Regions from separate parts of the Homo sapiens genome. Here all the other regions are linked to region 1. Evidence: fine-mapped QTL for protein levels in blood plasma. Region 1 holds a variant in brackets. A gene starts in each other region. All regions are shown on their forward strands.

Region 1 (5,113 bases):
GACTTTATTCACAGACTTAGAAAAAACTACTTTAAATTTTATATGGAACCAAAAAGAGCCCATATAGCCAAGACAATCCTAAGCAAAAAGAAAAAAGCTGGAGGCATCACGCTACCTGACTTCAAACTATACTACAAGTCTACAGTAACGAAAACAGCATGGTACTGCTACCAAAACAGATATATAAACAAATGGAACAGAACAGAGGCCTCAGAAATAACATCACAGGTCTACAACCATCTGATCTTTGACAAACCTGACAAAAACAAGCAATGGGGAAAGGATTCTCTATCTAATAAATGGTGTTGGGAAAACTGGCTAGCCATATGCAAAGAACTGAAACTGGACCCATTCCTTACACCTTATACAAAAATAAACTCAAGGTGGATTAAAGACCTAAACATAAGACCTAAAATCGTAAAACCCTAGAAGAAAGCTAGGCAATACCATTCAGGACATAGGCATTGGCAAAGACTTCATGACTAAAACACCAAAAGCAATGGCAACAAAAGCCAAAATTGACAAATGGGATCTAATTAAACTAAAGAGCTTCTGCACAGCAAAATAAACTATCATCAGAGTGAACAGACAACCTATAGAATGGGAGAAATTTTTGCAATCTATCCATCTGACAAAGGGCTAATATCCAGAATCTACAAAGAACTTAAACAAATTTACAAGAAGAAAACAACCCCATCAAAAAGTGGGTGAAGGATATGAACAGATACTTCTCAAAAGAAGACATTTATGCAGTCAACAAACATATGAAAAAAAAGCTCATCATCACTGGGCATTAGAGAAATGCAAATAAAAACCACAATGAGATGAGATACCATCTAACCCCAGTTAGAATGATGATCATTAAAAAGTCAGGATAAAACAGATGCTTGAGAGGATGTGGAGAAATAGGAATGCTTTTACACTGTTGGTGGGAGTGTAAATTAGTTCAACCATTGTGGAAGACAGTGTGGTGATTCCTCAAGGATCTAGAACCAGAAATACCATTTGACCCAGAAATCCCATTACTGGGTATATACCCAAAGGATTATTAATCATTCTACTATAAAGACACATGCACACATATGCTTATTGCAGCACTGTTCACAATAGCAAAGACTTGGAGCCAACCCAAATGCCCATCAATGATAGACTGGATAAAGAAAATGTAGCACATACACAGCATGGAATACTATGCAGCCATAAAATGGATGAGTTCATGTCCTTTGCAGGGACATGGATGAAGCTGGAAGCCATCATTCTCAGCAAACTAACATAAGAACAGAAAACAAAACACTGCATGTTCTCACTCATAAGTGGGAGTTGAACAATGATAACACATGGACACAGGGAGGGGAACATCACACATCTGGGCCTGTTGGGGGATTGGGGGCTAGGGGAGGGATAACATTAGAAGAAATACCTAATGTAAATGACAGATTGATGGGTGCAGCAAACCACCATGGTATGTATATACCTATGTAACAAACCTGCACGTTTTGTACATGTATCCCAGAACTTAAAGTATAATAAACAAAATTTTTTAAAAAAGCCCCACTGAAGCTAAGCTGTCATTAAAGAAATTATAAACCATACATGAGGAAGGGTCAGGAGACACATTAAATAGATGAATTGATATCCCTAAAGAATAAAGAAGAATTTGAAAGACACTATAGGTCTTTTTAAATGAAGAAACAAAACCATAATGAAATAATTAAATACTCTGAGAACACCTGAAGGTTAGTCACTTATCCAAGAGTAAGTGTCCCAGAGTAAGTGGGATTCAGTTATAAGACAAAGGTGAGGGGATATCTTGGTGACATAACTATTAAGTGGTGCAGATGGCTCCCTAAGCTTTTGCTCTTACTTGCTGGACTGCAGGTACTGATGTAGATTTGAAGAGTCTATTGGACATCCCAGGGCAGCAGCAAAAGTGGGTTTAGAGAAAGGTAGAGAATGCTAGGTCTCACCATATTTTCCCCCCGCAGCACTACAGGACGTCGGGACTGGGCATTTCCTTCCAACATGGCCGCCACTGCCTCTCCGCAGCCACTCGCCACTGAGGATGCCGATTCTGAGAATAGCAGCTTCTATTACTATGACTACCTGGATGAAGTGGCCTTCATGCTCTGCAGGAAGGATGCAG[T/C]GGTGTCCTTTGGCAAAGTCTTCCTCCCAGTCTTCTATAGCCTGATTTTTGTGTTGGGCCTCAGCGGGAACCTCCTTCTTCTCATGGTCTTGCTCCGTTACGTGCCTCGCAGGCGGATGGTTGAGATCTATCTGCTGAATCTGGCCATCTCCAACCTTCTGTTTCTGGTGACACTGCCCTTCTGGGGCATCTCCGTGGCCTGGCATTGGGTCTTCGGGAGTTTCTTGTGCAAGATGGTGAGCACTCTTTATACTATTAACTTTTACAGTGGCATCTTTTTCATTAGCTGCATGAGCCTGGACAAGTACCTGGAGATCGTTCATGCTCAGCCCTACCACAGGCTGAGGACCCGGGCCAAGAGCCTGCTCCTTGCTACCATAGTATGGGCTGTGTCCCTGGCCGTCTCCATCCCTGATATGGTCTTTGTACAGACACATGAAAATCCCAAGGGTGTGTGGAACTGCCACGCAGATTTCGGCGGGCATGGGACCATTTGGAAGCTCTTCCTCCGCTTCCAGCAGAACCTCCTAGGGTTTCTCCTTCCACTCCTTGCCATGATCTTCTTCTACTCCCGTATTGGTTGTGTCTTGGTGAGGCTGAGGCCCGCAGGCCAGGGCCGGGCTTTAAAAATAGCTGCAGCCTTGGTGGTGGCCTTCTTCGTGCTATGGTTCCCATACAATCTCACCTTGTTTCTGCATACGCTGTTGGACCTGCAAGTATTCGGGAACTGTGAGGTCAGCCAGCATCTAGACTACGCACTCCAGGTAACAGAGAGCATCGCCTTCCTTCACTGCTGCTTTTCCCCCATCCTGTATGCCTTCTCCAGTCACCGCTTCCGCCAGTACCTGAAGGCTTTCCTGGCTGCCGTGCTTGGATGGCACCTGGCACCTGGCACTGCCCAGGCCTCATTATCCAGCTGTTCTGAGAGCAGCATACTTACTGCCCAAGAGGAAATGACTGGCATGAATGACCTTGGAGAGAGGCAGTCTGAGAACTACCCTAACAAGGAGGATGTGGGGAATAAATCAGCCTGAGTGACCAAATTTTGGTCTGGTGGGAACAGATGGGAACCAGCTCAATTGGGTGTCCACTCAAAGTGCTCTCTCCAGGGGCCTCAGTGACTGTGTTGCTAAACCCAGTGGTCAGTTCTCAGTTCTCAGCCATCAGCAGCATTTGCTCGCCCCGCCTTCTTCCTCCACTTTCTTCACTTGCTTCCAGGATACCACGCTTTCTTTTCTGAATTGCTACAATCTTTCTTCCTTCCTTCCTTGCTTCCTTCCTTCCTTCCTTCCCTCTCTCCCTCCCTCCCTCCCTCGCTTCTTCCCTTCCTCCTTTCCTCCCTTCCTACTTTCCTTCCTTCCTTCTGACAGGGTCTTGCTCTATTGCTCTGTCACCCAGGCTGGAATGCAGTGGCGAGATCTCCGCTCACTGTAGCCTCCTCCCCCTGGGTTGAAGCAATTCTCATGCCTCAGCCTCCCAAGTAGCCAGGACTATAGGCACCTGCCACCATGCCTGGCTAATTTTTGTATTTTTTTTCTTTCTTTCTTTCTTTTCTTTTTTTTTTTTTTTTGAGACGGAGTCTCACTCTTGTTGCCCAGGCTGGACAACAATGGCGCGATCTCGGCTCACTGCAACCTCCACCTCCCGGATTCAAGCGATTCTCCTGCCTCAGCCTCCTGAGTAGCTGGAACTACATGCGCGTGCCACCACGCACAGCTAATTTTTATAATTTTAGTAGAGATGGGGTTTCACTGCGTTGGCCAGGATGATCTCGATCTCTTGACCTTGGGATCCACCCGCCTTGGCCTCCCAAAGTGCTGGGATTACAGGTGTGAGCCACCATGCCTGGCCCTAATTTTTGTGTTTTTATTAGAAACAGAGTTTCACCATGTTGGCCAGGCTGGAGAATTGCTGTAATAGTTTTCCAACTGGCCCCTGTCCTTCCTCTCTCTTGCTCTCCTCCCATCTCATCTGCACCTAGCAGCCAGAGTGATCCTGATACTCTCGGCCTTTACTTCCGCCTCCCTCAGAGCAGCAGCCTGTCAAAACACCAGATTACAACAAATTTAGTTTAAAGGTCTCAATTAGCGTTATTGGCAATTCTAGAATCAGGCAACAGACTCATTGAATCAGGAACAGATTCACTCCATAAAATACAGAGAGTGCTGCAATGAGCTGGGTAGAAGAGGTTAGTTTTATAGACAGGAAGGGGCTGTCAAAGGCAGAAAGAAATGAAGAACAAAAAAAAAGATTGATTTTTTTTTTTTTGAGACAGGATCTCACTCTGTCATCCAGGCTGAAGTCCAATCCCACAATCATGGCTCACTGCAGCCACCACCTCCTGAGCTCAAGTGATCCTCCCATCTAAGCCCCCAAGTAGCTAGGACTACAGGAGCACACCACCACACCTGGCTAATTTTTGTATTTTTTGTGGAGACAGGGTCTCAGTATGTTACCCAGGTTGGACTGGAAACCCTTGGCTCAAGCAATTTGCCTGCCTCAGCCTCCCAAAGTGCTGGGATTACAGGCGTGAGCCACTGCACAGGGCCAGATTCATCATTTCAAAGTTACTTTCTATATGCGGCCGGAACAGGGTGGTTGACATCAGTTTTCTTCAGGTTACTTTTTAATAATGATTAAAACGGGGAACTTCATTATCATGAGCATGGTTACTGTCTGCATTATTACGCCAACTGAAACTGTCATGTTTGGGAATTTGGCTGTTAACTCTGTCTCCAGGAGTCTCAAAGGTCAGATAACAACTTAGTTTTGGTTTGAGGACATGGAACTTTAATACGACAGATTCCATTTTGGTTTGGTCTGGTCAGCTGGGACCTAGTGCAGGAGGTTAGTCCAAAACAATGGCCTTCCATAGTTTTTACTTAACAAGCCCAACTCCTTACGGTAATCCTTTAAGGCCTATGTGATCTGCCCTCACCCTGGCTACACTCTTTGCCCTTATGTCCACCA
Region 2 (5,113 bases), not on the chromosome of region 1:
TGGTTCATAAAGTAAAGTAGTAATTAAAAAAGTGAGGAACAAAAGAGACATCAATATATAAAAAAGGGAAAATATCAGATGGTAATCCTATTTCATCAGTAATTACACTAAATGTAAAAGTGTTAAAACCCCCAAGAAGCAAAGGTTGAGTAAATGAATTTTTAAAATAAACCAACTGTATGCTATCTATAAGATACATGTTGTAAATCTGAAATCTCAGATAACTTGAAAGTAAAAGTATGGAAAAGTCACCCCATGGAAATGATAATCAAAAAAGAGCTAGTGGCTATACTGTTAATAATATCAGACAAATAAATTTTAAGACAAAAATTGTTACTGGAGACAAAGAAGGACATTCTTTTGTGACTAAGTGTTAAAAATATATATTTTTTAATCTGGAAGGAAATTAACCACTTACATCTTCTGATGTTGATAATGTACAACAATTTTTTTAAATAAGTGTTTCTAATTTTGCCATATTTTCTACAACCAGCTTATATTGTTTTTAAATTATTTAAAAGTTTTTACAACATTCTGCAACAATTCAGCAGCCTTTTATTTTTACCATTCCCAGGTCTTGTAGGTGACAGGTACAGGTCTTTCCATCATAAATATAAGCAGGCATTTTCTCTGGGATCTTAGGCAGGGACATCTTGGGGTACTTCACTTAAGGATTTTCTGAAGGAAAAAGGTTTAACCAACTGGAACCCATGAGTACTTCCTTGAGCTCCTGACCTGTCTGGGCAGGACCCCCGTGTTCTACTCCAACTTCATCGATCATTCAGCAGGTTATCCATGATAGTTGTCTTCCAAAATAAAAGAAAAAAGAAAAAGAAAGAAAAGTCAAAGGAAAGGATTCTGCTTTTTAGAAGCATCAGGTGGATGGAACGTACACCCTGGGTTAGAAAATATGCTGTTCTAATGTGTTACATTAGAGTGAGCTGGGAAGACTCCATAAATAAGGAGATAGAAAGTAGGCCAACTCTTCACCAATTTCTGGAGCTGGGAGTAAAAACAATTTGAAAAAGAGATAATCGAGAGAATGAGTAGCCTGAGCAAAGTCATAGGGGTAAGATAAAACGACATAAAGCTAAAACCAGAATCAAAGCCTTGCATTGCTCCCAAATTAATATTCAAAGTTGTATAATGCTCAATTCCCCCATTGAATAATTTTCCTTTTTTGCATTCCATGTCCATGATCCATGGCCCAGTTATAGGCATGAGGACCCCACCCATGGTCTCTCATCAAACCCCTTTTCACTGATATGGAAGGCGATTAGTTGGTGATTTTGTAATGTGTATGTGAGATGAGGAGCTAGTTGTATGTGAGATGAGGAGCTAGATTAGTGGTTTCCAAAATTTATTCTTTGTATTTCTGAGATATGTGTGTGGGAAGAATGACAAGAAGTCTCTTGTCTCTGATTCAAACTGAAGGTCTCTGATTTTGTCGATAAATTTGCCTTCCCTATATTCTTTTACTTGGAAAAATATTTTCACAGCTCATTAGATGTTTTAGAAACACAGTATTTTAAGATCTTGATATGCTGTGCAGTTCCGATAGCCTATAAAACAAATAGTGGTTTTAAAACATATCCTCAAATTATTTTACACTCTTCCCATTAAGAGGTATGACTATGTTCCCTAACCTTGCACCTGGGATCCTTAAGCCATCATGCAAAATATCTAGCCATGTGGAGGGACCACTGGAAAGATCACACACACACACACACACACACACACACACACACACATACAGAGAGAGAGAGAGACACCTGAGAAATTCCATCTGGTCCAACTGCTGGCTGTTGAAGTCCTCCCAGCCCAGACCCCAGACACTGAATGAAGGCCTTGTGATATAGTCAAGAGCAAAAAAACCCAGAAGATTGTTATTGTTTTAAGTCACTGTTTTCAGATAGATTGCTATGCAGCAATAGATTATTGAAATAGACACTACAATTTTAGGTACTATTATTCTAAGAATATTGAATTTTATTTTTCTGCTAATGTTCTATTATTTTACTTTTCTCTGGGTTTTAGAAAGCCACCAGGATTTAAGACAGTGAAGAATCTTTGAGTCCTTTGTAGAGTTGAACCAAAGTTTGAATGTCTCTTTGTGGACTCGTGTCCTAGGGATACCACTCCAAAGGGAAAAGGGGAATATCCCTTACATATCTTTGACTTTGGTATCCCTGATTCCTTCCTTTTTCTATAGAATGTGTCTCATTTCAGAGAAACTGGTCTCTTGATAATAGCCATAGATTACATACTGTGGTCTTCCTCTACATAGACCCTACCTCACCTACCACTCCTGGTCTTAGCTGAAAAACAGGCTAGCCTCGACTCATACTGTCATTTCCTATCCTCCCACTGAAGTGCACTGGCTCAGCAGATTTATTACTCCATAGATTTATTACTCCATTCTATGATTCATCCTCTCTGCTTCCTATAAAAGGCAGAGACAGAGCTTCCAGAGGAGCAGAGGGGCTGAGACCAAACCAGAAACCTCCAATTCTCATGTGGAAGCCCATGCCCTCACCCTCCAACATGAAAGCCTCTGCAGCACTTCTGTGTCTGCTGCTCACAGCAGCTGCTTTCAGCCCCCAGGGGCTTGCTCAGCCAGGTAAGGTCCCTCTCTCCTTCTCCTTGAAGCACATTGCCCCCTCTCTGGGTTATCCTGGACCAATCAAGAAGACCTGATACCCACAGTCTCACTTTAACAGCTACTTTTCCAAGATAAGGTAACTTAGAAAAAGGATAAGGGGTGAGCCCAACCACACAGCTGCTGTTGGGTAGAGCCTGAACTAGAATTCCAGCTGTGAACCCCAAATCCAGCTCCTTCTAGGATTCCAGCTCTGGGAACACCCTCAGTGCAGTTACCACTCCAGCTGCTTCCAGCAGAATTTGGGATCAGGGTGATCAAAGACAGGAGGCTTCTGGGGATGGGTGTGCGGGCTGTTTCCAGATACCGGGAGACCCAGAATCTGGTCTGTGGAAGCCCAGCTTCCAGAAACAGCAGCTCTGCAGAGGTGGTACGTATCAGGGAAACTCATGACCAAGCATTGAATGCTCAGAGCCTAAAAGGGGATCCATAGTTGGGGTACCCTTGCTCTAAGGAATTGGATTATTATATTAGCCCCTCCTAGCAATGCCCAGAGTAGCCATCAATTCCTCTTCCGTCTTTCAACTGGTGATGGTGCATCCCTATTTCACAGTCCATAAAAGTGAAAGGGAGTTTATGAAATGCCTCAAAGGGCAGAGACATTGGGTTTGGGATGGGCAGCTTTTCCCTCCACCTCTTCCTTTCTTTCTGATTCCTTCTTCTTACCATTCCCTGTTTTACAAACAGAAAGACCCAGGACACACCCTCAATGGACTTTTCTTCTTGTTGTTTCATTGCAGTTGGGATTAATACTTCAACTACCTGCTGCTACAGATTTATCAATAAGAAAATCCCTAAGCAGAGGCTGGAGAGCTACAGAAGGACCACCAGTAGCCACTGTCCCCGGGAAGCTGTAATGTATGTGGACGATGACCACCCACCCCTCACACCTCAGTCCTAGGTTCTTCCCTGGGCAGGGAATAGGACTAGTATCAGAATGAGTTGGAGTCAAATACTGTGATGCATACAGCATCTCTAACCTTATCCCAGACATTTGCCAGTGAGAAACAATACAAGTAAAGAAAGTGGCTTCTCACTCTCAGCTCCCTTTCCAGCTATCATTTTACATCTCAGTTCGTTCCTTCATCCTGGAACCAAGAGAGATTCACTTGGGCTACCAAAAAGAGCTGCTTCTCTGAGTCCCCTTCCTTTGTTTTATCTTCTTCCTTCATCCCTGAGGCATCCCCATCAGCTAGGCTGATGGGCTAGACAGATTTCCCATAGACTTGGTCACACTCCCAGGCTGAACCCTCAAGGTGTTCCATCTGACTGTCTCCTTTCTGCTCCACAGCTTCAAGACCAAACTGGACAAGGAGATCTGTGCTGACCCCACACAGAAGTGGGTCCAGGACTTTATGAAGCACCTGGACAAGAAAACCCAAACTCCAAAGCTTTGAACATTCATGACTGAACTGAAAACAAGCCATGACTTGAGAAACAAATAATTTGTATACCCTGTCCTTTCTCAGAGTGGTTCTGAGATTATTTTAATCTAATTCTAAGGAATATGAGCTTTATGTAATAATGTGAATCATGGTTTTTCTTAGTAGATTTTAAAAGTTATTAATATTTTAATTTAATCTTCCATGGATTTTGGTGGGTTTTGAACATAAAGCCTTGGATGTATATGTCATCTCAGTGCTGTAAAAACTGTGGGATGCTCCTCCCTTCTCTACCTCATGGGGGTATTGTATAAGTCCTTGCAAGAATCAGTGCAAAGATTTGCTTTAATTGTTAAGATATGATGTCCCTATGGAAGCATATTGTTATTATATAATTACATATTTGCATATGTATGACTCCCAAATTTTCACATAAAATAGATTTTTGTATAACAGCTGCCATTCATGGTTTTTTAAAAGGATAAAGTAATAAAGCTGGTGGGGGTAACAGGGTGACAAGGTGAAGGGCGTGGTTGCAGAGGTTGGGCTCACATTGTGGAGAAATGAGCGCGTAATGGACTCTGGGCTTTCCCCCAGGCCAGGCTCACCTGCATGTTAGGGAGAGGCAGCCACAGGCTGGGGCCAGATGAACCCACCCCCCAGCTCCAGATCTGACATCTGCTTCAGCCACTTGTTCAAATACCTTTCTTTTTTCCCAAACTCATTCTTTTTCTCACCATCCCACGCTCTACCCAAAAGCCTGTCCCCTCTTCTATTCTATCAGCCTTGTGACTGGCTGGTTTTCCCCCTTCTAATCAATCCTCTAGTCTAGTAAATACAAATGTCACTTTCATTAAAAAATCAAGTAGGAGACCAACAGATGATTTGGCAAGTGCCTGCCATCATTGATTTCTGCCACCATTGGTGTTCAGACCAAGTCCAACATCCCTTTCTACCCCTTCTTCAGCCCACCAGTTCTCACCCCCAAACACCAAAGTCAACCTTAAACAATGAGATTCAGAAAATGTGAATAAGTATTCAGTTCATTCAAGGACAAAGCTTGAGGGTGGCC
Region 3 (5,113 bases), not on the chromosome of region 1:
ACAGCCACAGCTCAGAGGGCAGCTGAGGTGCTGGTTCTTCCCTGCAAAGGGCTCTCTAGGGACTCCTGCTTCCCAGGTCTGGGGCTTGCTCAGAAGTGGCCACAGCCCTTCCCAATACCCTCAGCCTCCCCTGGGGAGAGCCATGACCCAGGTGGCATTGTGCGACGTGTCAAATCTCCAAATGCTGTTGAGTCGTGACCCCATTCCCTGCTGGCTTTTGCAGTGGCTGAGATTCCCAAGGCCTTTCAAAGAGGCCAGATCCACCAGGCTCCTTGGAAAGGGTGTGAGGCTTCTTCCCAGGATGCTGGGTGCTTGTCACTGACCCTGGTGCTGAACAGATCTTCCTCGGGTGCCCAGAGGGTCGAGTTTGGCAGGACAATCCCCCCACCCCGACTGCAGGCAGGCTGCCAGACTAGGAGCAGAGGACTTCTGAGTTCTCAGTGACTTCTGTCACTACACCCTGAGGGGTGAACCTCAAATTTTCCCAATGTCATCAGGGGACCATAGACCTGCCTTTGAAGTAGCTTGGAAACAGGGACAGATGTTCCTTGGAAAGAGAGTCAGACTCTAGCAATGAATAAAAGGCACTCATTTACAAGGCTTGAGTGGAAGCTCAGAAGTCCTGGAGCCCAGGCATCAGAGAGACATTGAGACAAGTCCATTGGTAAGAGTGAGAGTAACAAGAAGGGTTTCTGCATTCTGCTTCAGGAACAACACCAGCCATTTATCCATTCACTCACTTAATCCAAAAACTATGTATTGAAGGCCTACCATGTGCCGAGATATATTCCATTAAAGAAAAGAAACAGAAACCTCTGTCCCATGCAACTTACATCCCAGTAGGATGGGGGTGGGGGTACAGGTGGGAGACAGATAGTAAACAGCAGACATAAGTAAGCGAATGGCCTAGCATGTCAGAGGATATAAGCATTTCAGCAAAAAAAAAAAAAAAAAAGAGCAGAGGAAGAGATGGGGATGGCATGCAATTTGACTTCACTGAAAGATGTAATCTAAACAAATACATATATATATTTATAATATATATAATATATATTATTATCTATAATATATATAATATATATTATTATCTATAATATATATAATATATATTATTATCTATAATATATATAATATATATTATTATCTATAATATATATAATATATATTATTATCTATAATATATATAATATATATTATTATCTATAATATATATAATATATATTATTATCTATAATATATATAATATATATTATTATCTATAATATATATAATATATATATTATAATATATATAACATATATTATATATAATATATATATTATAATATATATATTATATTATAATATATATTATAATATATATATTATATTATAATATATATTATATTATATATATTATATAATAATATATATATTATAATATATATATTATATTATATATATGTTATATATATTATAAATATATATTTTATATATATATAATATATATTTATAATATATATAATATATATTTATAATATATATAATATATATTTATAATATATATTATATATATTATAAATATATATAATATATATATATATATATTTTTTGAGATAGAGTCTTGCTCTGTTGCCCAGGCTGGAGTGTAGTGGTGTGATCTTGGCTCACTGCAACCTCTGCCTCCTGGGTTCAAGTGATTCTCCTGCCTCAGCCTCCCAAGTACCTGGGACTACAGGCACCTGCCACCACGCTCAGCTGATTTTTGTATTTTTAGTAGAGATGGGATTTCACCATGTTGGCCAGGCTGGTCTCGAACCCCTGACTTCAAGTGATCCACCTGCCTCGGCCTCCCAAAGTGCTGGGATTACAGGCGTGAGCCACCACGCCCGGCCTAAAAAAGTTTGAAAAAGGTGAAGGAGTGAGTCCTGCAGGTATCTGGGGACAACATTCCAGGCTGAAAGAACAGTCCGTGCAAACCTCCTCAGGAAGGAGCATGTCTGTCTGGTTGGTTTGAGGCATAGGGAGGAGGCCAGGGTGGCTGGGGCAGAGTGAACCAGGGAACCAGGAGATACAGGTGGGCAGAGAGCAGGGCACAGAACTCGCGGGGCCTCGTGGCTGCTGGAGGGTCTTGGACTTGTCCTCTGCGTGAGGTGGAGAGCCACGGGGACGTTCTGAACACGGGAGATTCATGGTCCCTCTGCTGCTGTGCTGAGAATACACTGTAGGGGGCAAGGATGGAGACAGGGAGAGCACCCAGAAGGCAGTTGTAGGAAGCCAGGGATTGATGCTGGTTTCTGGGTGTATTTGGAAAGCAGAGACATGAGCTCACCCAACAGATGGGAAGTTGGGGGCGAGAGGAAGAGGCGTCAGGGATAGCGCCCAGGTTTCTGGCCCTAGTAACCGGAAGGAAGGGGCTGGCAGAGAAGGAGGAGAGAGCAGGTGTAGGGGTGGGTGGGAATCAGAAATTCAGCTTCAGACTTGGGGGGTTGGAGCTGCCTATTTGGTATGGCGAGTAGGCAGCTGGACGTAGAAGGAGGCTGGAGTTTGCGAGAGAAACTTGGGAGTGGTTGGCATATAGATGATATTTAAAGTCAGAAACGTGTACTATTTGCCAGATATAAGCAGTAAGGCAGTTGATGCAAACCAAAGCCTTCTAATGTAATTATTGTTATTATTTTCATTTTGCAGCTGTAGAAACTGAGGCTCAGAGAGAAGTGACTTTGAGCTCACAGTGTCACCGCCTGCTGATGGGAGAGCTGAATTCAAAACCAGGTGACCTGACCTAGAGTCTTTGCTCCTAACCCCTCCACTGTGAGGTGACCCCCTCGCTGGATCTTTCAGGGCATGTGTTAGATGAGCGGTGGATGGACTTTGGATCAAGGGAAGATAATCCATACAAGAAGGGGACAGGAGTTTGGAAGCAGCAAACCAAGTCACAAAGTGAGGGGACGCACTGGCCCTCAAGAAAGCTCAATGTTGGGGAGCAGGGAGATGAGACTGAATAGGAAGGAGGGGCTAGATGGAAGGTACAGCTTCAAGATTGGCCTGAAAAGTTTTGACTGGATGGGGAAGGAAGCAGGGAGCCATTGACGGTTTTGGAGGAAGGGGGCATTACATGGTCAGGGCAGCCCTTGTGAAAGATCCACCACATGTGGGCATGCAGCTGATGAGGGAGGTGTCAGGAGAGACCAGAGAGGAAGAAATAGGCCCAGAAGTTTTTGAGACTCTCTGGGTGTGAAGGATGAGGGCTGAGCCAGTGGAGATGAGAAGGAAGCAAGGAAGCCAAGCTCCCACTGAAGACAGCGCTGGGCAGAGTCTCTGCCTGATGTAATGTGGGGGATGGAGGCGAGGAATGAGTCAAGGGCAAAGTTTCAGACTTGGGGGCAGATGGGGAGATGGGAAACAATGCTGGCTTGAACAGAAAAAAAGGAGGCTGGTGTGAGAGGGAACTCGGTTTTGCCCTTCTGGTACCTGGGGCTGAGTGAACCATAGCAGGACAGACTTCTGCTTCCCAGCAGCTCACAGGTTAGTGTGGGGGACAGAACTGCACAGAGCTGGCCAGGCTGCAAGGCAGAGAGAGCTGAGGGGTGCCACAGAAAGATGGGCCGGAAGGAGGAGTGTCCAGGTGGGTGTGTCTGATTAGTTACTGGTCAGGGCTGGAGACAGAGATTTAAGAAGTATTTATCAGGCCAGGTGCGGTGGCTCACGCCTGTAATCCCAGCACTTTGGGAGGCCGAGGCAGGTGGATCACGAGATCAGGAGATCGAGACCATCCTGGCTAACACGGTGAAACCCCGTCTCTACTAAAAATACAAAAAAAAAAAAAAATTAGCCGGGCATGGTGGCGGGCGCCTGTAGTCCCAGCTACTTGGGAGGCTGAGGCAGGAGAATGGCGTGAACCCGGGAGGTGGAGCTTGCAGTAAGCCGAGATAGCGCTGCTGCAGTCCAGCCTGGGCGAAAGAGCAAGACTCCGTCTCAAAAAAAAAAAAGAAGTCTTTATCCAGAGGTAAAAGATCTGGGGTAGATGATGTCAGGGAGGAAGGGAAGGTTGCTTGAGGCAAAAACAAAGTCTAGGACAGAAGCCCAGGCTTGCTCCTGCCACCAGCTAGCTCTGTGCCCATGAAGCAGATTTATTTTGTTGTTGTTGAAATGGAATCTTGCTCTTTTGCCCAGGCTGGAGCGCAGTGCCACAGTCATGGCTCAGTCGTGCACCACCATGATTGGCTAATTTTCATTTTATTTTTTTTGTAGAGACAGAGTCTCACTATGTTGCCCAGGCTGGTCTCAGACTCCTGGGCTCAAGCGATCTTCCCACCTCAGCCTCCCAAAGTGCTGGGATTACAGTGGACCAGTTGCTTAAACTACTCTGGTCAGTTCCTAATTTTCTCATCTGTAGAAACTAATAGTTCTTACTCCCTGAAGCTGTTGTGAGGACAAAGTAAACTAATAGACTTAACTGCTGAGATTCCCCTGCCCCAACACCCACCCCAGCCTATAGTGAGAGCTCAGGGACATTTCTGAGAAGAGGAGCTCACAGGGAGCTCAGGGAAGAACCATGTCCCAAATCCCAGTGGGAGGAGCATCAAGAAGGATGGTAGGTTCCCAGGGATGACAAGGCGATTCCCTGAGCCAGCTGGAGACTAGGAACTTTATAGACTTCATCTCAGTTAGTTTTCCAGGTCATACCATGAGGGAGTGTCTTATCATCACACCCATTTCACAGATGAGAAAACTGAAGTTCATAAAATCGCTGTTAGTCACACAACCAGGAACAAGTAGAAGAGTGACTGGGACTCAGGGCTGTAGGTAATGATTCCAGAGCCTCTGCTGGTAATCACTGCCCAATGTAAGGCAGTGGGAGGTTCAGGGAGTGGCTGGAGGGGATCAAGAGGCTCAGTGAGAGCACCTTTCCTAGAGCATCAGAGCTGGAAGCCACATTGCTGAGGATTAATTAAATCACAAGTGGGCAGAGAGGAAATGGTAGAGGGAAGTACAGACCACACATCGGAGCAGTTTGGTCATGAATGAAAGGAGAAATGGGAGGGCAGCATGCGAGGGTGTTGAAGTCAAGGGGAGGTCTTTATGGAAGTGGAGAGACAGGATCATGTTGTCAGCAGAGGGAAAGGGGGTCA
Region 4 (5,000 bases), not on the chromosome of region 1:
GAACTTCCAAAGCTGCCTCCTCAGAGTGGGAATTTCCACTCACTTCTCTCACGCCAGCACTGACCTCCCAGCGGGGGAGGGCATCTTTTCTTGACAGAGCAGAAGTGGGAGGCAGACAGCTATCACTTTCCAGAAGACTTTCTTTTCTGATTCATACCCTTCACCTTCCCTGTGTTTACTGTCTGATATATGCAAAGGCCAAGTCACTTTCCAGAGATGACAACTCCTTCCTGAAGTAGAGACATGCTTCCAACACTCAGAAGCCTATGTGAACACTCAGCCAGCAAAGCTGGGAAGTTTTTCTCTGTGACCATGGGCTAATTGGTCTCCTTCTCTGGATTGTGGCTTTATCAGATAAAAACAAGTGGTCATGCCACAGGATGTCTATAAGCCCATTGATTCTGGGATTCTATGAGTGATGCTGATATGACTAAGCCAGGAGAGACTTATTTAAAGATCTCAGCATCTTTCAGCTTGTTAACCTAGAGAAAACCCGAAGCATGACTGGATTATAAAGGGAAATTGAATGCGGTCCACCAAGTTCATGGTAAAGGATGCACTAACTGATTAGAGAGAGGTTTCCCCTGATATGAGGAAAACTTCTTGGAAGATGAGGTGAGATGGCCTAGGAAGAAATTCCTACACAAAGTTGCACAGTCTCTAGTCCTGGAAACATTTTATTCATTGGATAAGAATGGATTGAGGCATGAGCAGAGGACTGAGACAAACACAGAGAAGTTTCAACACTGGTTGGGGAGAAAAGGAGTAACTAGTGAGATTCAGGCAGAACAAGAATAAGGCTCCTCAAGAGGCACAAGCAAAGCAGGGCTCGAGTTGATTTGTTCTCTCTTCATCCTGCTTTTTGTAATTCCACCAGAGTCTGAAATGGCCACTCCATAGAGTCTCTGCTCTGGGATTCTCCAGGAAACCAATATCCATCATGAGACATCAAGTCTAGTCCCAGGAAGAAGAGATTCTGGAATGGAAACATCCTGGGTGGGAGTCTCAGCACATCTACTATTCTGTCTGAGTTACTGGACAAATAACTTCAGTTTTAACCTAACGAAAGCTGGGTTGGTTGGAGGACTGGGCAGGCAGCGCTGGAAAGTATGTCAGCACCATACCTGACTCCCTGAATGCACTCAACAATGCCATTACTGACCACTTACTAGAAATAAAACAGTCATTTGTTGAATACAACCCGTTTCTTTTTACAAGTGTAGTGAAAAGTGTTTTCTTTCAAGAAACCCCATGCATTTATAGACATTGCCTCAGTGACCCTTTATGAAAGAAGTCACTAGTCTTTGTATGCCCATTGGGCAAGGGCACCGCAAGGCTCAGAAGGAGGAGGCAGTGGGCTAGGAGAATCGAGAGATCAGAATTTTAAACTCAGCCCAGCCATTAACATGCCTCAAGTACTCCTATCATATTTGTAAGAGACAACAGTTCACTGAAATGAATTCTAAGGTCTTTGGGTTTTTATCAGTGTGCTTCTGTAGTTTCTGAGGAAATCTAAGGCACAACTGAGGAATGAAGTCAGGCTTTCCAATTCCCGAAATACTCCTCCACTGCTTACTCATGTCCCTTGGAAATTAAGAAGGAAGCCAGGAGAATAGCTGCCATAACCAGGGATGAACTTCTTGTCCACTGCTGCCTGCTATGCTAGCAACAGCCTCCTAACTCATAATGACTTAGCCATGAGGAATGTTTCTAGATTCTCCTTTAGCTGTCTGCCCATTTGGAAGATGCTGAGGACAGAGAGAGGACCCAAGCAGGCAACTAGTTGGAGGACTTGTACACGTTTCCTTCCAGCAGTATGTCAGAGAGGTGGCAGCCCACTGGGGACAGGGCTGCCTGGGTTCTGTGCTCGAGGGGACCTTGAGCAGGCTATTTAACCCTTCTGTGCCTCAGTTGCCTGATCTATAACATGAAAATTAGCAATCCCTACTAGATAAAGTTGGGGAATTTACAGAGTTAATATTTGTAAAGGTCTGAGAATATTCCTGGCAGAGTAAGCACTCTGTGAGTATGACACTGGCATTTCTTCTGCAGCACTACATGCTGTCTATGCCTTTGTCCAAGTCTGAAACCCTAGAACTCTTAGAATTCAGTTCAATGTTTACACAATCCTACAGTTCTGCTAGGCTTCTATGATGCTACTATTCTGCATTTGAATGAGCAAATGGATTTAATGCATTGTCAGGGAGCCGGCCAAAGCTTGAGAGCTCCTTCCTGGCTGGGAGGCCCCTTGGAATGTGGCCTGAAGGTAAGCTGGCAGCGAGCCTGACATGCTTTCATCTAGTTTCCTCGCTTCCTTCCTTTTCTGCAGTTTTCGCTTCAGAGAAAGCAGAATCCTTAAAAATAACCCTCTTAGTTCACATCTGTGGTCAGTCTGGGCTTAATGGCACCCCATCCTCCCCATTTGCTCATTTGGTCTCAGCAGTGAATGGAAAAAGTGTCTCGTCCTGACCCCCTGCTTCCCTTTCCTACTTCCTGGAAATCCACAGGATGCTGCATTTGCTCAGCAGATTTAACAGCCCACTTATCACTCATGGAAGATCCCTCCTCCTGCTTGACTCCGCCCTCTCTCCCTCTGCCCGCTTTCAATAAGAGGCAGAGACAGCAGCCAGAGGAACCGAGAGGCTGAGACTAACCCAGAAACATCCAATTCTCAAACTGAAGCTCGCACTCTCGCCTCCAGCATGAAAGTCTCTGCCGCCCTTCTGTGCCTGCTGCTCATAGCAGCCACCTTCATTCCCCAAGGGCTCGCTCAGCCAGGTAAGGCCCCCTCTTCTTCTCCTTGAACCACATTGTCTTCTCTCTGAGTTATCATGGACCATCCAAGCAGACGTGGTACCCACAGTCTTGCTTTAACGCTACTTTTCCAAGATAAGGTGACTCAGAAAAGGACAAGGGGTGAGCCCAACCACACAGCTGCTGCTCGGCAGAGCCTGAACTAGAATTCCAGCTGTGAACCCCAAATCCAGCTCCTTCCAGGATTCCAGCTCTGGGAACACACTCAGCGCAGTTACTCCCCCAGCTGCTTCCAGCAGAGTTTGGGGATCAGGGTAATCAAAGAGAGGGTGGGTGTGTAGGCTGTTTCCAGACACGCTGGAGACCCAGAATCTGGTCTGTGCTTCATTCACCTTAGCTTCCAGAGACGGTGACTCTGCAGAGGTAATGAGTATCAGGGAAACTCATGACCAGGCATAGCCTATTCAGAGTCTAAAAGGAGGCTCATAGTGGGGCTCCCCAGCTGATCTTCCCTGGTGCTGATCATCTGGATTATTGGTCCGTCTTAATGACACTTGTAGGCATTATCTAGCTTTAACAGCTCCTCCTTCTCTCTGTCCATTATCAATGTTATATACCCATTTTACAGCATAGGAAACTGAGTCATTGGGTCAAAGATCACATTCTAGCTCTGAGGTATAGGCAGAAGCACTGGGATTTAATGAGCTCTTTGTCTTCTCCTGCCTGCCTTTTGCTTTTTCCTCATGACTCTTTTCTGCTCTTAAGATCAGAATAATCCAGTTCATCCTAAAATGCTTTTTCTTTGTGGTTTATTTTCCAGATGCAATCAATGCCCCAGTCACCTGCTGTTATAACTTCACCAATAGGAAGATCTCAGTGCAGAGGCTCGCGAGCTATAGAAGAATCACCAGCAGCAAGTGTCCCAAAGAAGCTGTGATGTGAGTTCAGCACACCAACCTTCCCTGGCCTGAAGTTCTTCCTTGTGGAGCAAGGGACAAGCCTCATAAACCTAGAGTCAGAGAGTGCACTATTTAACTTAATGTACAAAGGTTCCCAATGGGAAAACTGAGGCACCAAGGGAAAAAGTGAACCCCAACATCACTCTCCACCTGGGTGCCTATTCAGAACACCCCAATTTCTTTAGCTTGAAGTCAGGATGGCTCCACCTGGACACCTATAGGAGCAGTTTGCCCTGGGTTCCCTCCTTCCACCTGCGTTCCTCCTCTAGCTCCCATGGCAGCCCTTTGGTGCAGAATGGGCTGCACTTCTAGACCAAAACTGCAAAGGAACTTCATCTAACTCTGTCCTCCCTCCCCACAGCTTCAAGACCATTGTGGCCAAGGAGATCTGTGCTGACCCCAAGCAGAAGTGGGTTCAGGATTCCATGGACCACCTGGACAAGCAAACCCAAACTCCGAAGACTTGAACACTCACTCCACAACCCAAGAATCTGCAGCTAACTTATTTTCCCCTAGCTTTCCCCAGACACCCTGTTTTATTTTATTATAATGAATTTTGTTTGTTGATGTGAAACATTATGCCTTAAGTAATGTTAATTCTTATTTAAGTTATTGATGTTTTAAGTTTATCTTTCATGGTACTAGTGTTTTTTAGATACAGAGACTTGGGGAAATTGCTTTTCCTCTTGAACCACAGTTCTACCCCTGGGATGTTTTGAGGGTCTTTGCAAGAATCATTAATACAAAGAATTTTTTTTAACATTCCAATGCATTGCTAAAATATTATTGTGGAAATGAATATTTTGTAACTATTACACCAAATAAATATATTTTTGTACAAAACCTGACTTCCAGTGTTTTCTTGAAGGAAATTACAAAGCTGAGAGTATGAGCTTGGTGGTGACAAAGGAACATGATTTCAGAGGGTGGGGCTTACATTTTGAAGGAATGGGAAAGTGGATTGGCCCCGGTCTTCTCCACTGGGTGGTCTCCTCTGAGTCTCCGTAGAAGAATCTTTATGGCAGGCCAGTTAGGCATTAAAGCACCACCCTTCCAGTCTTCAACATAAGCAGCCCAGAGTCCAATGACCCTGGTCACCCATTTAGCAAGAGCCCAACCCCCATTCCTTTTCTCACAGACCCTGACCCCTGCATGCAATTCTTCCCTTAACATATTGCAACTGCCCCCTAACTGGGCTACCCACCCCCCAATCTGTACCTCTCCAATTAATACCCCAACCTGGAGTAATACAGACACTGCCAGTATTAGGAAATAAGGAAAGAGTTA
Region 5 (5,113 bases), not on the chromosome of region 1:
TCCAGCTGTGTTCTTTTTGTTTAAGATTGTCTTGGCTATTCCACTGCGGCCTCTCAGGGAGTGAGGGAAAGGGAGAGCGTCAGGATAAATAGCTAATGTGGATGGAGCTTAATACTTGGGTGAGGGGTTGATAGGTGCAGCAAACCACCATGGCACATGTTTACCTATGTAACAGACCTGCACATCCTGCGCATGTATCCCAAAATTTAAAATAAAATAAAAATTTTTTAAAAAGAACATGGTTATATTCCTAAATCTAAAAAGGAAAAACAGGGGATAGCTCAGCAAACCTGGATAGGAGAGTCATGGAGAAACCACCTTGAAAGAAGTTAAAACCATTAGTTGAGGGATGTATCCAGGTTGAGGAACACAGGGAGACAACAGAGGAGAAGAACCTCAACTTAACTCTTCTCCCTGCTCTAATGTCCTCAGAAGCTCCCTTGTGCCTAAACCCAGTCAGAAGCTAGAAGGTCAGCAACCTCACTGATGTAACCCACCAAGATTGGCTTCCTAGGGCAGAGAATAGAATGGAAAAGAATGGAATGTGTGTCTGAAGGGACAAGCTTATAATATCCTTTTCTCAGGTGAGTCTTGACACATTTTTGTGTCAAAGTTAGGTAGGTCTCAAAATGAATTGAGTGGTGTACAATCTTTTGATATTCTCTGGAAGAGATTGCACAAGATTGAAATGACCACTTCCTTCAGTGCTTGGAGGAATTAGCTGTTTGTGCCCTTTGAGCCCAGAGAATGTTTTGTGGGAAGATTTTCAATTCCTGATTCCATTTCTTTAATAGCTTTAGAATGACTTTCTATTTTTTATTTATTTGTGCACCCTGGTCAGTTAGATTTTTAAGAAATTCATCCATTTCCTCTAAACTAAATTTTTGGCATAAGGTTCTTATCATTTTCTTTTTGGTGTCTGCAGGCTCTGCAACTGGTTATATGTACCTTTTTCCTTTTTTCTTTTCTTTTTTTTTTTTTCTGGGACAGAGTCCTACTCTGTCACTCAGACTGGGGTGCAGTGGTGCAATCTTGGCTCACTGTAACCTCGGCCTCCCAGGTTCAAGCAATTCTCCTGCCTCAGCCTCCCAAGTAGCTGGGATTACAGGCATGTGCCACCATGCCTGGGTAATTTTTGTATTTTTTTTAGTAAAGACAGGGTTTTACCATGTTGTCCAGGCTGCTCTAGAACTCTTGACCTCAAGTGATCCCCCCGCCTCAGCCCCTTTTTTCTTTTTTTTTTCATTTTCAGTTCAGGAGAGTTTTAGCTTAATTATAGGCTACAGAACCAGCTTTGGGCTTCATCTATCCTTTCTAATATTTACTGTTTCCTATTTCTCTAATCCTAGCTCTTTATTTCTTCCCTTTACTTTCACTGGGCTTATTTTGCTATAGTGGAATGCAGAGGGATGAGTATTCCAGGAAGGCACAAAAACTGTGCCAAGTCTTGGAGCTAGGGATGAGTGGGAAAGGGACATGTTCAACCATTTTAAGCCATTCCCTCCCCACCTCCCAGCTCCCAGATATGTGCCCCTCGCAGGAGGAGCCCAGGAATGGGCCAAACACCTCACTTCTTTGCTCTGAGGGCCACCCCAGCCCTCCCATCAACAGCTCTAGAAACCCAATGGTCCTTCCTGGAAACACGGGGCCTGCATCAATCAGAGGTGTTTGAACCATGTCCCTCTGGGCCTGAGGGGCAGAAGGGGACACAATATGTAATGTAAGGAGCCCCTGTCATCAGAAATCTGACTTAATCTGTTTCAGATATTAGACTTCCACATAAAAGTTGACTTGGAAAAAGACTTCTGCTGCTAAACAAAAGTTGAAACTGCCTTGGTGATAAAATATAAGCAGACCAGCTTTCTCTTCTAGCTTTCCCTCTCATTTCCCATAAGATTTTGGTCAAGTTATTTAATCTCTCTGCATCCGTTTCCTCTTCTATGAAATGGGCATGATAATAATGGTATGTACCTCCTCAAACTAAATATATAACGTGAACAGAGTCCTTAGCACAGCACTCTTTCTCTACAGGAGTTAATTTTCATTGTTTTTCTCTTTCCTGTTGGAGAAAGTAAGAAGAAAACAGCTCCTTTATGGCTTCCCATGGTGAATGGCTGGGGCGCGTCTGTGTCCCTTTCTCCTCTCTGGCTCCTTGTGGCCTGAACAGCCAGAAGGAAGCCATGCCATGCTGTTTCAGCCCTCAGCTTCCCTCTTGCATTTCCTAGAAAAGTCTTTGGTGCCCAGCTCCAGCTCAGCAGATTCAGGATCCCCCTTCATCATGACTTGGTCAACGCCCTGCTCAGGCCAAGGTCCTCTGAGAGTTCCAAGCTTCTCCACTCCCTATAAAAGGCCGGCGGAACAGCCAGAGGAGCAGAGAGGCAAAGAAACATTGTGAAATCTCCAACTCTTAACCTTCAACATGAAAGTCTCTGCAGTGCTTCTGTGCCTGCTGCTCATGACAGCAGCTTTCAACCCCCAGGGACTTGCTCAGCCAGGTAAGTCACCTCCCTTCGACTCTCCCTCTCTTTCCCTCTGTTTCTCTATTCAAGGAAGACCTAAGCCCGAGTGCTCCTCCACTTTTTTTTTAGATTGAGTCTCATTATGTTGCCCAGGCTGAAGTGCAGGGGTGCGATCTTGGCTCATTGCAACCTTCACCTCCCAGGTTCAAGCGATTCTCTTGCCTCAGCCTTCTGAGTAGCTGTGATTACAGGCACCCGCCATCACGTGCAGCTAATTTTTGTATTTTTAGTAGAGAAGGGGTTTCACTATGTTGGCCAGGCTGGTCTCAAACTCTTGACCTCAAGTGATCCTCCCGTCTCGGCCTCCCAAAGTGCTGGGATTACAGGCGTGAGCCACCAGGCCCAGCCAAGTGCCCCACTTCTAAGCCCACCAGAATAGTAAGGCTCCTCAGAGGTTCACTTTAACATCTAATTTTAAAGATAGAAAGCTGAAGCCCATGTTGGAGGCAGAAGGGACCCTAGCCATCCACCTCCAGGTTATTGCAGAGCAAGAATGAAACCTAAGCTTCTGACTCCAGATTTAGGGCCTTTTCTTTGACCTCATCTGATCGTCCCAAACTCTGCAGATCTGGGACCACACCCAGGACCTTTCCCACTGGCCTTGCCCGTGGCCTCCCCTAGATGGCTGTGACATGTCTCCACCATGCAGCTGAGCCTTTGAGATCCTGAGGCACATGTCACAGGTCCCACCTCACCTCAGGGTCTAGGGTGGGAGTGCTGGGCTTGGGGGTGAGTAAGATCTATTTCTTCCTCTTTGCTTTGCATCCCATACAGATGCTCCCTGCTGTATTCAAGCTGAGAAAAGCCTAACACATCCTCAAAGTCTTTTTCTTTGTAACTATTTCTAGATGCACTCAACGTCCCATCTACTTGCTGCTTCACATTTAGCAGTAAGAAGATCTCCTTGCAGAGGCTGAAGAGCTATGTGATCACCACCAGCAGGTGTCCCCAGAAGGCTGTCATGTGGGTAGAAAAATCCCTGCTCACCTGGCTCCTCCCCACTCCCACATTCCCCAATCCAAAGTTCTGCCCCAGGAGACAGACGTCAGACTGACTTGAGATCTTAGGATGAGATCTAGCCAGACTGTGTGATGCAAATCCTCCAATTTTGGCTGCACAACAGGTCCAAAGAGGACCTATAATTTCCCACACCTTGTTTCCTGGATGGGCACCAGCCCACACCCTTTAGCAGATGCCAGGATCAGTTTCCCAGGGGCAGCAAGAGCAGTGGCTGCCTCCAGAGACCCCTTCTGTCCACACACCTCCTACTTCCTGTCCTGGAGGGGTGCCCCTTCACCTGTAGTAGGTGGACCAGGCAGGTTTAGAACCCAGTGTGTCATCTCCTGGGTAAACCCTCAAAGGGTTCCATCTAACTGTGCCAGATCTCCTTCCTCCACAGCTTCAGAACCAAACTGGGCAAGGAGATCTGTGCTGACCCAAAGGAGAAGTGGGTCCAGAATTATATGAAACACCTGGGCCGGAAAGCTCACACCCTGAAGACTTGAACTCTGCTACCCCTACTGAAATCAAGCTGGAGTACGTGAAATGACTTTTCCATTCTCCTCTGGCCTCCTCTTCTATGCTTTGGAATACTTCTACCATAATTTTCAAATAGGATGCATTCGGTTTTGTGATTCAAAATGTACTATGTGTTAAGTAATATTGGCTATTATTTGACTTGTTGCTGGTTTGGAGTTTATTTGAGTATTGCTGATCTTTTCTAAAGCAAGGCCTTGAGCAAGTAGGTTGCTGTCTCTAAGCCCCCTTCCCTTCCACTATGAGCTGCTGGCAGTGGGTTTGTATTCGGTTCCCAGGGGTTGAGAGCATGCCTGTGGGAGTCATGGACATGAAGGGATGCTGCAATGTAGGAAGGAGAGCTCTTTGTGAATGTGAGGTGTTGCTAAATATGTTATTGTGGAAAGATGAATGCAATAGTAGGACTGCTGACATTTTGCAGAAAATACATTTTATTTAAAATCTCCTACACAGTGGTGTTTTCTTCAGGAGTAACTGCCAACCAGTAGGGGCTCTCAGAGGTGTGGGTGGATGGCATGCCAGTGGAAGGCAGATGTACAGAGGCCCTGGCCATGGGGCTAGCCTGGCTCATCTGAGTTTCAAGGAGGGCCTGCCTCACCAGCCCAGGCTGTTCTGGAACAATGGCTCCAGTCCCCAGCATGGGCGCTCCTGGCTCGCAACTCATCCGTTTCATATTCAGTTCATTTCTTTCTTTAAAACCACACTCCTGCCAAAAGTAAACCCATCCCTCCCCCTCTAGTCTCCCACCCCAATCTATGCCTCCCCACTCCAAGCAGCAAGTGATTCAGACTTCATGTGCACCTGACACTCAGAGGGAAACCAGATGACCAAGTCCTAGTGAGCCTCAGGATTGGTAGGGAAGAGGGTGCTTGGGCCTAATGGACTTTAGAGGATGGGGAAGTATGGTCATAGCAAAGATTCTTTTAGGGGAGGTCCAAGATAGCAATGTGGGGAGAGGGCCTGGGGGGAATATCCCCAAACGGTCCGATATGGGCTTCCAGAATGTAAAAGTTGGAGACATGTAGAAATGAAAGTTGAGGGCAGGTTCTAGAGGAATT
Region 6 (5,000 bases), not on the chromosome of region 1:
CCACCATGGCACATGTATACCTATGTAACAAACCTGCACGCTCTGCACATGTATCTCAGAACTTAAAGAATAATAATAAAAATAAAAGATACCTTTTCCAATTAAAAAAAAGAAAAAAAACTCTTTAGAAGTCAATATTTTGTTTTCACAAGGGGGGATCCATTTCCTGCCCATCACTCAGGATCATTCCTGATCAAGGCCCCTCATTCATCAGGCACCAAATCACAGGCAAGAAATTGGTCTACTCTACTTCATTGCTGAAAAGAAAGCCTCCAAGAAAGAAAGAGAAAAAGCCCTTGAAGCTGCCCCTGCTTGCTAGGGATGGCCAGTGAGCTGGATGAAACAGCTGCAGAGCTTGGATATCTAAAGATTGATTTTATTTATTTCCACTGAGCCACTGAGGTTTTTCAGGTGTAGAGTAAATCCAAAGCCCATTAACTCCAAAGCCATTTTTCAAGGAAAACACAAAAATGAATAATCGCTTGCTGATAATTCCTTTAAATTCCCGCCAGAGTTATGAAATTATTCTTACTACAGAAACAATCATTAAACCACGTCAGACAAACACCTCTGAGGTCAATAATATTCCAAATTTATTCTGCCGAGAATTTTTTAAAACTTCGTATCTGCCACATGTGCAACTCAGGCATTCTTGGAAACCATCCCTGCGGTAGCATATCTTTACTTGGAAGCAGTGGGAAAACTTGGAAGAATATTTGGAGAAATATCCAGACTCTGAGGTCTTTCCAGCATTCCCAATCTGCCCTTCTTTTTTTTTTTTTTTTGAGACACAGTCTCACTCTGTTGCCCAGGTTGGAGTGCAGTGGCATGATCTCTGCCCATTGCAACCTTTGTCTCCTGTGTTCAAGCAATTCTCATGCCTCAGCTTCCTGAGTAGCTGAGACTACAAACACCATCCACCATGGCTGGCTAATTTTTTGTATTTTTAGTAAAGACAGGTTTTCACCATGTTGGCCAGGCTGGTCTTGAACTCCTGACCTCAAGTGATCTGCCTGCCTCAGTCTCCCAAAGTGCTGGGATTACAAGTGTGAGCCACTGTACCCGGCCCTATTTCCTAATAATAAAAAACAGTAACTTCTACTCACTGAGTACCTACAGTGATTTAGTCATTCTTCTAAGCAGTTTAGATACATGAACTCATTTAATTCACACGACAATTCCCTAAAGTACACATGATTAGTATCCTGCTCTTACCCTAGCAGAGAGTGGTTAAGTAAGTTGTCCATGGTATCACAGCTAGTCAGTCACAGAGCCATCATCCAAATGCAGATATCCTGAATTCAGGTTCTACATTAGACTAACCCACCAGGAATGGAGCAGGAAAGAACAGGGAAGACTCCACATTTTTGGCCTCTATTTGGTAATTATAGTTAACTTTTTAGGTAATTATAGACCAATTATCCTAGATGGGCACTTAGAGACTTTGCAGGACAGCAAGAGCTGTCTCTAATCCTGTGCCCATGACAGACATCACCAGTCAACCACAACACAGTATTTAACTAACGCAAGTCAACTCCTCAGAATCTTTAACATTCTTGTTTGTGCTACTGTACCAATCAATCAATTTGATATGAGAGTGTGCAGGAAAAAACAGGAAACAGGTTTGCAGTACCTCCACACCAGTATTCAATGCTGTAATCCGCTGCAGTGACTCCATTAAAGACTTTGCCTCCCTTATACCCTCTCCAACTAGGGTGCCTAGTGTTATGAACAAAGGGATATGTATAGGTTCTTGTGTTGCCTCTCTCTTTGATATTTTTAGCCATCAGATACCTTGTCTGCAATGTGTGCTCAGAGAGTGAGGGGGGAACTAGATGATTGATTTTCCAAATGTGTTCCCTAAATGTGTTCCCTGGGGAATAAGGGCACGAGAGGCTGCCTATTCTATTTCAAACAAATCCCCTTCACTACAGTGTATTTGATGAGTTGGGGTTTGTTTTAATTCCATTTGGAAAAGGGCTTTAGCAGCTAAGCAAATGGTTTTAAAGTGCCTCAGAAGTCAAGATTAATAGAAACTATCCAGTTCTGATGTCCTATCATGCTAAAATTTCAGGGACTAAGATTCTGTGATCATTACATTGAAACACAGCAGCAAAGCTGTGGTGTGTTGTCCTTCCTGGTTCAGAGATGCAACTATGTGCAGGGCTGCTGAGCTCTCTCTGCATCTGGGTGGGAGCCTAATGGAAGTTTTGGGGCTCCTTCCTGGTCTCCAAAATCCTCAAGACCACCATGTGAACACAGGAATCAAGGAAGGTTCTTAGATCGACTCATCCCCCAGGCCTTTGGTTTCCTTGCTCCTTTCCCCAACTACAGGTGTTTCATTTCAACTCATCCCCTAGGGCCTTGGTTTTCTTGCTCTCTTCCCCCACTACAGATGTTTAACTTCATTTCATAACCACATATTCCCCTCCTTTTCCAAGGCAAGATCCAGATGGATTAAAAAATGTACCAAGTCCCTCCTACTAGCTTGCCTCTCTTCTGTTCTGCTTGACTTCCTAGGATCTGGAATCTGGTCAGCAATCAGGAATCCCTTCATCGTGACCCCCGCATGGGCAAAGGCTTCCCTGGAATCTCCCACACTGTCTGCTCCCTATAAAAGGCAGGCAGATGGGCCAGAGGAGCAGAGAGGCTGAGACCAACCCAGAAACCACCACCTCTCACGCCAAAGCTCACACCTTCAGCCTCCAACATGAAGGTCTCCGCAGCACTTCTGTGGCTGCTGCTCATAGCAGCTGCCTTCAGCCCCCAGGGGCTCGCTGGGCCAGGTAAGCCCCCCAACTCCTTACAGGAAAGGTAAGGTAACCACCTCCAGAGCTACTAGGTCAGCAAGAATCTTTACAGACTCACTGCAAATTCTCCATTTGAAAAATAGGGAAACAGGTTTTGTGGGTGGACAAGAAATGCCTCAACCTCACATCCAGTCACTGGAAGAGCCAGAACTAGAAAGCTCCCGAGTCTTTTCCCCACATTCAAGAGGGTTGCTGGGTGCATCCATACCCAGCTATCCTTACAGTGTTTGGGAATGGGGAATGGCTCTGTCTTACTGTGGGCATGGTGGGCATTTTTGGCAGTGGGAGAGAAGGAAAATCTGTTGATTAGAAGCTCAGTATGTTAATTCGACTCCAGGACAGCTTTCAGAGACAGTGGCTAAGAGAAGAACGAGGTCCCAGGGGGATCTCTTGAGGTGACTTATTTTGACACTCTTTGGGAAAGTTATCTAGGAGATTTGTTCCATAACTCATTTTCCCATACTCTGGTGACAAATTTACTGAGTGTATCGGTCCCACTGAGCCAGTGCATAGCATGGTAACAAACAGTTCTAAATTATCAATGACTTAACAGAATTAACTAAATTAACAAAAGTTACTTTCTCACTTGTACTAAATATCTATAATGTATGGGCTCAGGCTTCTGCATTTTATACTCAGGATTCTAGACTGATGGAGAAGTTGCCCATGTGGGGGAACATTGATGGATACTGTGATAAAGCAGAAGAAAGCTCTCAGGAGTCTTGCATAGGCAATGCACTGTGGCTCAAAAATGACACCCATCACTTTGTCTCCTTCTTTATTGATCAAAACTAATTAATGCCTCCAACCAAACAAAAGTGGCCAAGAAATGCAAGTCTACCTTGTGTCTCAAAACAGAGGATGGAGAATATTTGGTGAAAATTACCATGACCATCACATGGCCACGTAGGTCTTTATAATGACAGAGCTAGCATTTGTCACATTGACCAAGCTTTGTCCATACACTCTACAGTAATGATGAGTCCTCAGTGCACAGGGGAGGATGCTGAAGACACAGGACAGCATCCTCCAGACACATAAGACTTCAGAGCAGAGGGATTCTCCCTCCACCTCTCGCAATTCCTTGCTTTCTCCTAACTTCCTTTACAAAGTCATGCTTGGAAATGTCTATGTATCATCATGTGGCTCATTTTTTTCTCTGTTCATTTTTTTTCCCCAAAATTCAGCTTCTGTCCCAACCACCTGCTGCTTTAACCTGGCCAATAGGAAGATACCCCTTCAGCGACTAGAGAGCTACAGGAGAATCACCAGTGGCAAATGTCCCCAGAAAGCTGTGATGTAAGTAAATAAAGTTCACCCTCCCCTAGACAAAAAAATAATGTCTAGGGCACAGAGTCAAGAACTGTGTCACAGTTGCTGGGAGTCATAGACTCTGATAGTTTGACCTCTATGGTCCAATTCATTAATTTTCACAAGTGAGTGTTCACTCCCAGCTCCCTGCCTGGGAGATTGCTGTAGTCATATCAATTTCTTCAAGTCAAGAGCAAAGATGGTTTTACTGGGCCTTTAAGAGCAGCAACTAACCCAAGAGTCTCATCCTTCCTCCTCTCCGTAGCAACCCTTTGTCCAGGGGCAGATGGTCCTTAAATATTTAGGGTCAAATGGGCAGAATTTTCAAAAACAATCCTTCCAATTGCATCCTGTATCTCCCACAGCTTCAAGACCAAACTGGCCAAGGATATCTGTGCCGACCCCAAGAAGAAGTGGGTGCAGGATTCCATGAAGTATCTGGACCAAAAATCTCCAACTCCAAAGCCATAAATAATCACCATTTTTGAAACCAAACCAGAGCCTGAGTGTTGCCTAATTTGTTTTCCCTTCTTACAATGCATTCTGAGGTAACCTCATTATCAGTCCAAAGGGCATGGGTTTTATTATATATATATATTTTTTTTTTTAAAAAAAAAACGTATTGCATTTAATTTATTGAGGCTTTAAAACTTATCCTCCATGAATATCAGTTATTTTTAAACTGTAAAGCTTTGTGCAGATTCTTTACCCCCTGGGAGCCCCAATTCGATCCCCTGTCACGTGTGGGCAATGTTCCCCCTCTCCTCTCTTCCTCCCTGGAATCTTGTAAAGGTCCTGGCAAAGATGATCAGTATGAAAATGTCATTGTTCTTGTGAACCCAAAGTGTGACTCATTAAATGGAAGTAAATGTTGTTTTA

Which allele goes with the higher level. Positions count from the first base shown, and alleles are read on the strand shown. Strength reflects both the effect of a copy and how common the allele is.
For the plasma level of the protein whose gene starts at base 2,475 in region 2, allele T in region 1 goes with a lower level than allele C (moderate association).
For the plasma level of the protein whose gene starts at base 2,684 in region 3, T is the low allele of the variant in region 1 and C is the other (moderate association).
For the plasma level of the protein whose gene starts at base 2,638 in region 4, allele C in region 1 goes with a higher level than allele T (weak association).
In carriers of allele T in region 1, the plasma level of the protein whose gene starts at base 2,373 in region 5 tends to be lower than with C alone (weak association).
For the plasma level of the protein whose gene starts at base 2,644 in region 6, allele C in region 1 goes with a higher level than allele T (moderate association).

The links. PIP is the chance, under the fine-mapping model, that this variant and not a neighbour inherited with it causes the effect. The UK Biobank Pharma Proteomics Project read protein levels with antibody pairs (Olink). The fine-mapping took linkage between variants from a reference panel, not from the people measured, so its PIPs are less certain.
Region 2: CCL7 starts here. The variant in region 1 is fine-mapped to the plasma level of the CCL7 protein (UK Biobank, PIP above 0.99).
Region 3: it holds the start of CCL17, and the variant in region 1 is fine-mapped to the plasma level of the CCL17 protein (UK Biobank, PIP above 0.99).
Region 4: it holds the start of CCL2, and the variant in region 1 is fine-mapped to the plasma level of the CCL2 protein (UK Biobank, PIP above 0.99).
Region 5: CCL13 starts here. The variant in region 1 is fine-mapped to the plasma level of the CCL13 protein (UK Biobank, PIP above 0.99).
Region 6: CCL11 starts here. The variant in region 1 is fine-mapped to the plasma level of the CCL11 protein (UK Biobank, PIP above 0.99).

What each region holds. Positions count from the first base shown.
Region 1 is chr3:42,862,481-42,867,593 of GRCh38, forward strand. It overlaps ACKR2 (atypical chemokine receptor 2), which reads left to right. Exons shown (of 3, transcript NM_001296.5): 3 at 1,986-4,806. The coding sequence starts at 2,023. The coding sequence ends at 3,177. Among named protein-coding and RNA genes, the nearest start is that of CYP8B1, 11 kb to the right of the region's middle. The variant T/C (reference allele first, on the strand shown) is at 2,144.
Region 2 is chr17:34,267,747-34,272,859 of GRCh38, forward strand. It overlaps CCL7 (C-C motif chemokine ligand 7), which reads left to right and starts at 2,475. Exons shown (of 3, transcript NM_006273.4): 1 at 2,475-2,620; 2 at 3,400-3,517; 3 at 3,951-4,496. The coding sequence starts at 2,545. The coding sequence ends at 4,056.
Region 3 is chr16:57,402,084-57,407,196 of GRCh38, forward strand. It overlaps CCL17 (C-C motif chemokine ligand 17), which reads left to right and starts at 2,684. Exons shown (of 4, transcript NM_002987.3): 1 at 2,684-2,753.
Region 4 is chr17:34,252,648-34,257,647 of GRCh38, forward strand. CCL2 (C-C motif chemokine ligand 2) reads left to right here and starts at 2,638. Exons shown (of 3, transcript NM_002982.4): 1 at 2,638-2,778; 2 at 3,575-3,692; 3 at 4,075-4,556. The coding sequence starts at 2,703. The coding sequence ends at 4,180. RefSeq lists enhancers at 1-416, 1,360-2,334, 2,335-3,309.
Region 5 is chr17:34,354,108-34,359,220 of GRCh38, forward strand. It overlaps CCL13 (C-C motif chemokine ligand 13), which reads left to right and starts at 2,373. Exons shown (of 3, transcript NM_005408.3): 1 at 2,373-2,495; 2 at 3,368-3,482; 3 at 3,919-4,503. The coding sequence starts at 2,420. The coding sequence ends at 4,024.
Region 6 is chr17:34,283,099-34,288,098 of GRCh38, forward strand. CCL11 (C-C motif chemokine ligand 11) reads left to right here and starts at 2,644. Exons shown (of 3, transcript NM_002986.3): 1 at 2,644-2,786; 2 at 3,998-4,109; 3 at 4,487-5,000. The coding sequence starts at 2,711. The coding sequence ends at 4,592.